Homo sapiens: one gene and its partner. The protein of the gene in region 2 interacts with the protein of the main gene of each other region in a biochemical or structural test. Each region holds a gene or a part of one and is shown on either strand. Other genes may lie near its edges.

What was found.
Region 1: of the proteins of MAEA (region 2) and UBE2H, one has a biochemical effect on the other in vitro, tested with the Homo sapiens proteins (one study listed by BioGRID).

Annotation. Positions count from the first base shown.
Region 1 is NC_000007.14:129,855,185-129,859,007, reverse strand, and holds part of UBE2H (ubiquitin-conjugating enzyme E2 H), read left to right. Parts: intron 1-66; coding exon 67-106; intron 107-1,444; coding exon 1,445-1,497; intron 1,498-3,823. UniProt on the Homo sapiens protein: Accepts ubiquitin from the E1 complex and catalyzes its covalent attachment to other proteins. E2 ubiquitin conjugating enzyme that transfers ubiquitin to MAEA, a core component of the CTLH E3 ubiquitin-protein ligase complex.
Region 2 is NC_000004.12:1,337,575-1,340,771, reverse strand, and holds the end of MAEA (E3 ubiquitin-protein transferase MAEA), read right to left. Parts: intron 2,351-3,197; coding exon 2,155-2,350; coding exon of another isoform or gene 1,897-2,154; exon of another isoform or gene 1,705-1,896; intron 1,699-1,704; coding exon 1,603-1,698; 3' UTR 635-1,602; downstream 1-634.

The DNA of each region.
Region 1 (3,823 bases), on a different chromosome or scaffold from region 2:
CAGTACTGAAATACTTTTATTGTTCTCTGGATACTTTTTGCTGCTAATTAACATCTCTTTTTACAGGATTCATGAATAAAATTTTCCATCCCAACATTGATGAAGCGTAAGTAACTATTTTAAAATGTTTCAATTTTAGCAGCAACTGCTCATGATTAGTGTTTCTCTGTGTTATAAAAAGCCTCGGTTATCTTTTTGGACCTTATCAGGAGGTAGGACTGTATGAATGGTCATGTAAATGATAGAATCCAAAGGATATGAGGTTCTCAATCACTTAGTTCACATTCTGCTGTTGTACCACTTATTTTTTTCCATTGTCGTGACTGGGTCCTTCATTTTTCTTGTTACCCAGCAAACAGTAGTAATATTCCACATCTCACTTCTCTTTTTGTAGACACAGTTCAGAGATCTGTTTTCAGCCTACAGATAGACTATTTTCAGATCTTATAATATTTTCTCAATTCTTGATAGATAGTAAGGCAAAATGACTATAGTTTCATTTCAGTTAATGAATCTTATTTATCCCCTTCTTTCCTTCTAATATTTTATTAATGATACTTTAAAATATTCCAGCATATCCTGTTTTATACTTCTAGTGCTGTTTAGAATATATTATTGTTTGGGATGCAATTTTAATTTGTCATGGCACTAAGTTTTACTGTCTCTCACAAACATACCTAACAGGTTTTTCTGCACTCTGTGTGAGTAGGTTGTATATATACATACATCATGCCCCTTAGTCCTTTAATATTAATATTTTATTGTATCAGTTATCCTAACAAGGATATTCTCTTATCTATCCACAGTATATAGTTGTCAGATTCAGGAATTTAACGTTAATGCAATACTTATTTAATCTACTGCCATATTCCAGTAACTTACTTTTTAGCACTTTTTTCTTTCAATAAAGGATCCAGTCTAGAATCACACATTACATTTAGTTGTCATGTTTCTTTAAACTGCTTTAATCAGGATTAGTTCCTCAGCCTGCCTTTATCTTTTATAAAATTCACTTTTTAAAATAACATAGACCAGTTATTTTATAGATTGTTCCTCAATTTGTGTTTGTCTGATGTTTCCTGATCATTAGATTCAGGGCATGAACACACTTAAGGCCAGAAAACTACAAAGTAAGATGGTGTCCTTCTTGGGGTATCACATTCAGAGACACACAAGGTCTGTCTGCCCCTTGTGTTCTCAGCACCTGGTTCAGGTGTTGTCTGGTTTCTCCATTGCATAGTTACTATTTTCCCCTTTCAGTCTGTAAGGTGACACTTCAAGACCTGGTACTATTCTGTTCCTCATCATACTTTTCCCCAATTGGGATTCTTTTTTTCACAGATCTATTAGAAGTATTTCTCTTGATAAGTAAAAATTAGTTGCCAGATACATGCAACTAACTTTCTAATTTTTAAAAACATGCCATTCTTTCCATCTGTTTCAGGTCAGGAACTGTGTGTCTAGATGTAATTAATCAAACTTGGACAGCTCTCTATGGTGAGTTTGGCCATGGAATATTTTTTGGAGATGTTGAGACATTGCCTAAAAAAATGTTGTTTGGCTTTTCTTTTCTGGTTTAAGATGTTTTGTTGGTAATGGGAAGGGATTTTTGAGGGACCGACTGGGAAAGTTTGATCAGTGGAAAAAATGTTTTCTCTTAAGTACAAATATATCAGTTTAGCTGTGGAAGTTTAAAATGATTTTTTGAGATTCCAAACTTAAGGTATAGTGATACATGTGCACACACATGAGTACATGCGCACACACATGAATACATGTGCAAACATTTTATATGTATGTATTAGCACATAATATATACATATTTTGGTTTTGGAAAAAACTAAAACTACTTAGGAATGTCCCTCTGAAATGAGAGAGCAATGATATAGTAAGAGGTTTTAGGGGATCATCTTTTCAAAGACCAAAACCTCCTTATGAAGGAAGAGTAATTTAGCCTTACCTTCAGTGCTGAAATTGACACCCCATCTCTTACAGGGAATCAACAAATGAATTGCCCAGCTCTGCAAAATGCTATGCTGAATATCCCAGAGAGTTATAAAGAGCATCAGGCCTTTCCTCCTTATCACCTGGTTGGGGAGCTGAAAATATGTTAAAATACAGTCATCTCTTGGTATCTGCAGGGGATCAGTTCCCAGACCACCTGCAGATACCAAAATTCATGCTTACTCAAGTCCCACAGTCATCCCTGTGAAACCCACTGACATGGAGGGCTAGCTGTATTTATTGAAAACCACATGTGAATGGACCCATGCAGTTCAAACTGTGTGTGGACCCATGTTGTTCAAGGGTCAGTTGTGTATTTGAAGTTAATTAGGGATACAACAAATAAATCTGTTTTTCCCTCCACATGTCCAAATCTCAGGCTTCATAGAGTCTACCTACTCCAGTGCTCCTACCCCGTATACTTCCGCTGATTCTCCAGCTGGAAGTAATCTCTGGATACCATTACATTTTATAGCTCCTTTTTTATGGTCCACTTTTACTTTCTACTGTGTATTTGTTGTTTATGCCTATTTTTTTGTGCTACTAGATTATTTCCTATCTTAAGGGCTATCGGGTGTGTGTCTGATTCATCTGTAAGGCCCAGGACTCTTATCACAGTGCCCTTCACCAGTATGGGTTGAAAGAATGAATGGTACAGGTAACCATTGCTGAGAGGCACAAGAAAAGAAGGGAAAGCTCAGTTGAGGCTGAGCTTAACCAGGGATGGCTGCTTCTTGTTGAACTTGTACGACCTTTTAGTGGTCTGAGGTAGGTAAGACTTCTTAGTCCAGCCACAATCTGCAAGTTACTTTTGCCAGATATCCTTGAACTAGATTGGTAAATGAGAATCACAGAGAAAGGTTGGTCACCAGCAGAACACAGTTAATCCCTGCCTCCACCTGATTGTGCCGTTCAAAAATTATTTTCTCTACCTGGGATATTCCCCCCTGATCTTTGTGTGGTTAGCACCTTCTTCACTCATCTCACATATTACTTCCTCAGAGCAGTTTCCTTTCCCAGCTACTCCATCTGAAATCACACCCCTCCATAGCACAGCACCCAGTTGTATATATATTTTTTAATTTTAAAATTATTTTTTAATACATAGAAACAGAGTTGCACTCTGTTGCCCAGGCTGGAATGCAGTGGTGCGATAATAGCTCACTGCAGCCTTGAGCTCCTAGGCTCGAACAGTCCTCCCATCTCAGCCTCCCCAGTAGCTGGGACTATAGGTGCATACTACCATGCCTGGCTAGTACCCCGTTTTCAATAAGCTTCTAAAACTGGTATTTGTATATTATTTATCTTATCCCCTTGGATTGTAAGCACCATGAGTGAGGACTTTGTCTTGTTCTCGTCTCTCTCTCTCTATACACACGCACACGCACACGTGACTGTAACAGTGCCTGGTGCACAATAAGGGTTCGACTATTTGTTGTCTTAATGAGTGAATTAATCATGTCCAGAACTGTTTAACAAGAGAGTTTTAGGGGAGATGATGGCATATAGTTGAGGCAACAAGAAAGAACATACACTCCGAGCTTGATTAAATGGATTCCTTTTAAGATGGTTTTTTTGGTAAAAATGTCTCATGGCAGGCTGCCTGGAATATCTGATGTAATGATGTGTTTTCTTAAACTACATTCACATCTTAAAAATGTACATATCAAAATACTGCAATCTGGTTCCAATTACAATGAAGTAAATTGATGTTTAGTTTTGCTAAAGCTTTTACCATTGACCAGAAAAGCTTTGTGAAAGATGTTTGCTGACTGTCAAGTACTTCATGTCTCAGAACAGGTTTTTTAAAAAAATAACA
Region 2 (3,197 bases):
AAGGAAAGCCCCTGCACGTGAGGACGGTGGAGGCCGGGGCGGCTGCGTGGCAGTGGGGCCACAGGGTCTGCTTCGGCCGAGGGGACCTGGGGACGGGCGCTCCAAAGAAGAGCACGTGGGAATGTGGTGGGTTCCAGCTGGGTGCTGTGGAGGGGCCAGGGCAGCCACCATGGGGTAAGAGATGGGCTAAGGGGCACCAGGCTGGCCACAGGAGCTGCGACGGGGCACTGGAGAGAACAGGGGTGGGCGGTGGGGGGAAGGGCCAGTGGCCACAGCCCGCAGGCCTCCTTAGCCCAACCCTAGACTCAGCCCAAGCCGCAGGCCCAGGCTTGCTGGTGGCTGCAGCCTGAGCCCCCACCCCCAACAGACAATGGCCCGTGGGTCCCAGGAACCAGTGTCTGATTCACCCAGCTGCAAGCCGGGGCCTCAAGACGCTGGGGCCATCACGCCTCAGGGCAGCGCCCGAGAGGAGGACTGCGGTCCGGGCAGGAGTGGCCTCCAGCCGGCTTCTCAACTCCCGGTGGCCGTGGTGCCAGAAGCTACGCATATGCCCGCCATGCTGCCCGGGCCCCGGGGAGGAGCAGAACACAACCTCGGTGTTAGAAACGCACGGCAGCCTCGGCTCACACGGAAATGAGAAATAGAAAACCATTTTATTCGCATGGTTTACATTTACAGTTTATTAGCTAGTCAACATCAACATGCAAAAATAAGCACTAACTACAAACCTCTACGATACGGTTCTCTGTCAGCTACGGTGGTTCATTTGTTTTGAAAAGTCATCAGTACTTCTTTCAACTGAACGATTAATTTCTGTAATGGATAGCAATTAGACTCTACAGTTATGGAACCATCCGGCAAGGCCTCTGCAGAAATTTGGTCCCGTGGATTTCCACGTTATACATTCTCGAAGCAGGAAGTAAGGCGGCACACAGAGGGTGTGATATCGAAACGACGCAGCTACGAACACAGCCCCGCGATGTGATATCGAAACTATGCACGTACGAACACAGTCCCGCGGACACGACCCGCGAGGCAGGCGGGCGTCCTCGAAGCCAGCCCCCGACGGTGGCGGCGCCAGGCGTTTTGGCAGCAGCTCTCGAATGAAGCCATAAGTGTCCCTCGTGGCGCGGCATCGCGGGTCACTGCAGGTCAGTCCGGTGCCGCTGCCACCTTCCCCGGCCAGGCCAGGGCCAACAGGAAGTGGTGAAGGACCAGCCCGTTCTCCAAGTCTCATCGTTCACAGAAGGAAAGAAACTGAAAACACAGGGAAATCACGGACTCCTATATTTTAAACGTTCTTAAGTTTCCCTCGGTGTTTAGGTCAGTCTTTAAAGAAGAGTTTCCTTCGCAAGTTGAAAGTACTTTTCAGAAGCATCAAATGGTTGACGTGTTACAAAATCCTACCAATCCAAATGTTTTCAAGTACAAACTTATGAAACCTTATTTTCTCTCTTCCTAAGAGTATTTATCGTTGCTCACGGATCTTTGGTCGCAAGAAACAGAAACGCCGCGGCAGGCTGGAGCGTGGGACAGGAGGAAGGCGTGGCCTCCCCGCCCACTGCAGCCCGTCCCCGAGGCGTGCGCTTCACGACGTGGGGCCTACATGATGTACACCTTCTCGGCTTGTGAGAAGTGGAAGACTTCTTTGGTTCTCGGGCACACGACTTTATCATCTTGACGGATAGAAAGCAGAGACTGAAAAATAAAACCGGGAATGCATTAAGGCAAGCGACTACAACGTACACACGGATTTCCATGGAAAATCCCCACAATGAACCACCAGGGAATGACTCATCCTCTCAGGCAAAGTTCCTTCCCGAAGGCACACCTGCCAAAGAAATCCCGGGGCCACCTCGCCTGTCCTTCCCACCCCTTCATCCATTTCGAACGAAGCTAAGGCAGGGTGGGGCGAGAGGACAGCCCTGTCCCAATGGCGACGTGTGCCAGCCTGGCCCCGCTGCCCTGCCCGCCCCACACAGCCCTGTCCCGATGGCGACGCGTGCCAGCCTGGCCCCCCGCCCTGCCCGTCCCACACAGCCCTGTCCCGATGGCGATGCGTGCCAGCCTGGCCCCCCTGCCCTGCCCGTCCCACACAGCCCTGTCCCGATGGCGATGCGTGCCAGCCTGGCCCCCCTGCCCTGCCCCCCTCACATTGTAGCCGTAGACGTAGCCGTTGGGCAGCATCATGGGCGGATTGTTCTCGTTCATCACGTCGCCAGAAATCTTGCAGACCAGGCGGGAGTTGGCACAGTGGGCCATGGGCAGGGGCTGCGCCAGCTTGTTCAGGGAGCGGCTGCACACAGGGCAGTCAGGGCTCTTGGAGCTGCCGTCCTCCTTGTAGCACTGTCTGAGCATCGGGTCAAGGAAGGGTTGGGGGCCACTCAGGGCAGCCGGGGTGAGCCCAGCCCCCTGTGGCCACTCTGCCCTGGGCTGCGTGCCCTTCTGGCTATGTGGGCGCCATGCTGACTACACGGGGCTGTCTTTCGAGGCACAGGAAGTGCTGCACTCGACAGCTAAACAGCCCCACTGAGGCCTCGGTGGAGACAAGAAGCCTGCGCCTTCTCACCCCGGCCTCCAGCACCAGGACCACAGGCACAGAGTGGCTCCGTCGCCCGCCGCCCTCTCCCCGGCCACGCAACCTCTCCAGGCAGGACAAGAGCCACCCAGCAGGGACGTTCTGCTGGCACCTAGGAACAGGCAGTGGGCAAGCACGCCAGCCCTCTCGCCCAGAGTTCCACAAAGAGGGGACAAGGGAGGGGGCCTGAGTCTCATTCATACCCCGGCACAGCCAGGTACCAGCAGCAATCGCGAAACACTCACTGCCCTCTGGGCCTGAGGCAGGTCACATGAAAGACATTCATAGGCGGGGACAGAGTCAGTTGCAGGAGGACAGTCAGTCACAGGTGGGGACAGAGTCAGTCACAGGTGGGGACAGAGTCAGTCACAGGAGAGGGCAGAGTCAGTCACAGGCAGGGGTAGAGTCAGTAAGAGGCTGAGTCACAGGCAGGACGGAGTCAGTCACAGGTGAGACAGTCACAGGGCAGGGGCAGAGTCAGTCACAGGCGAGGACAGAGTCACAGGCGGGATGGACTCAGTTGCAGGAAGGGACAGACTCAGTCGCAGGCAGGGGCAGAGTCTGTCACAGGCAGGAAGAAGTCAGTTGCAGGTGGGACAGAGTCAGTCACAGGAAGGAA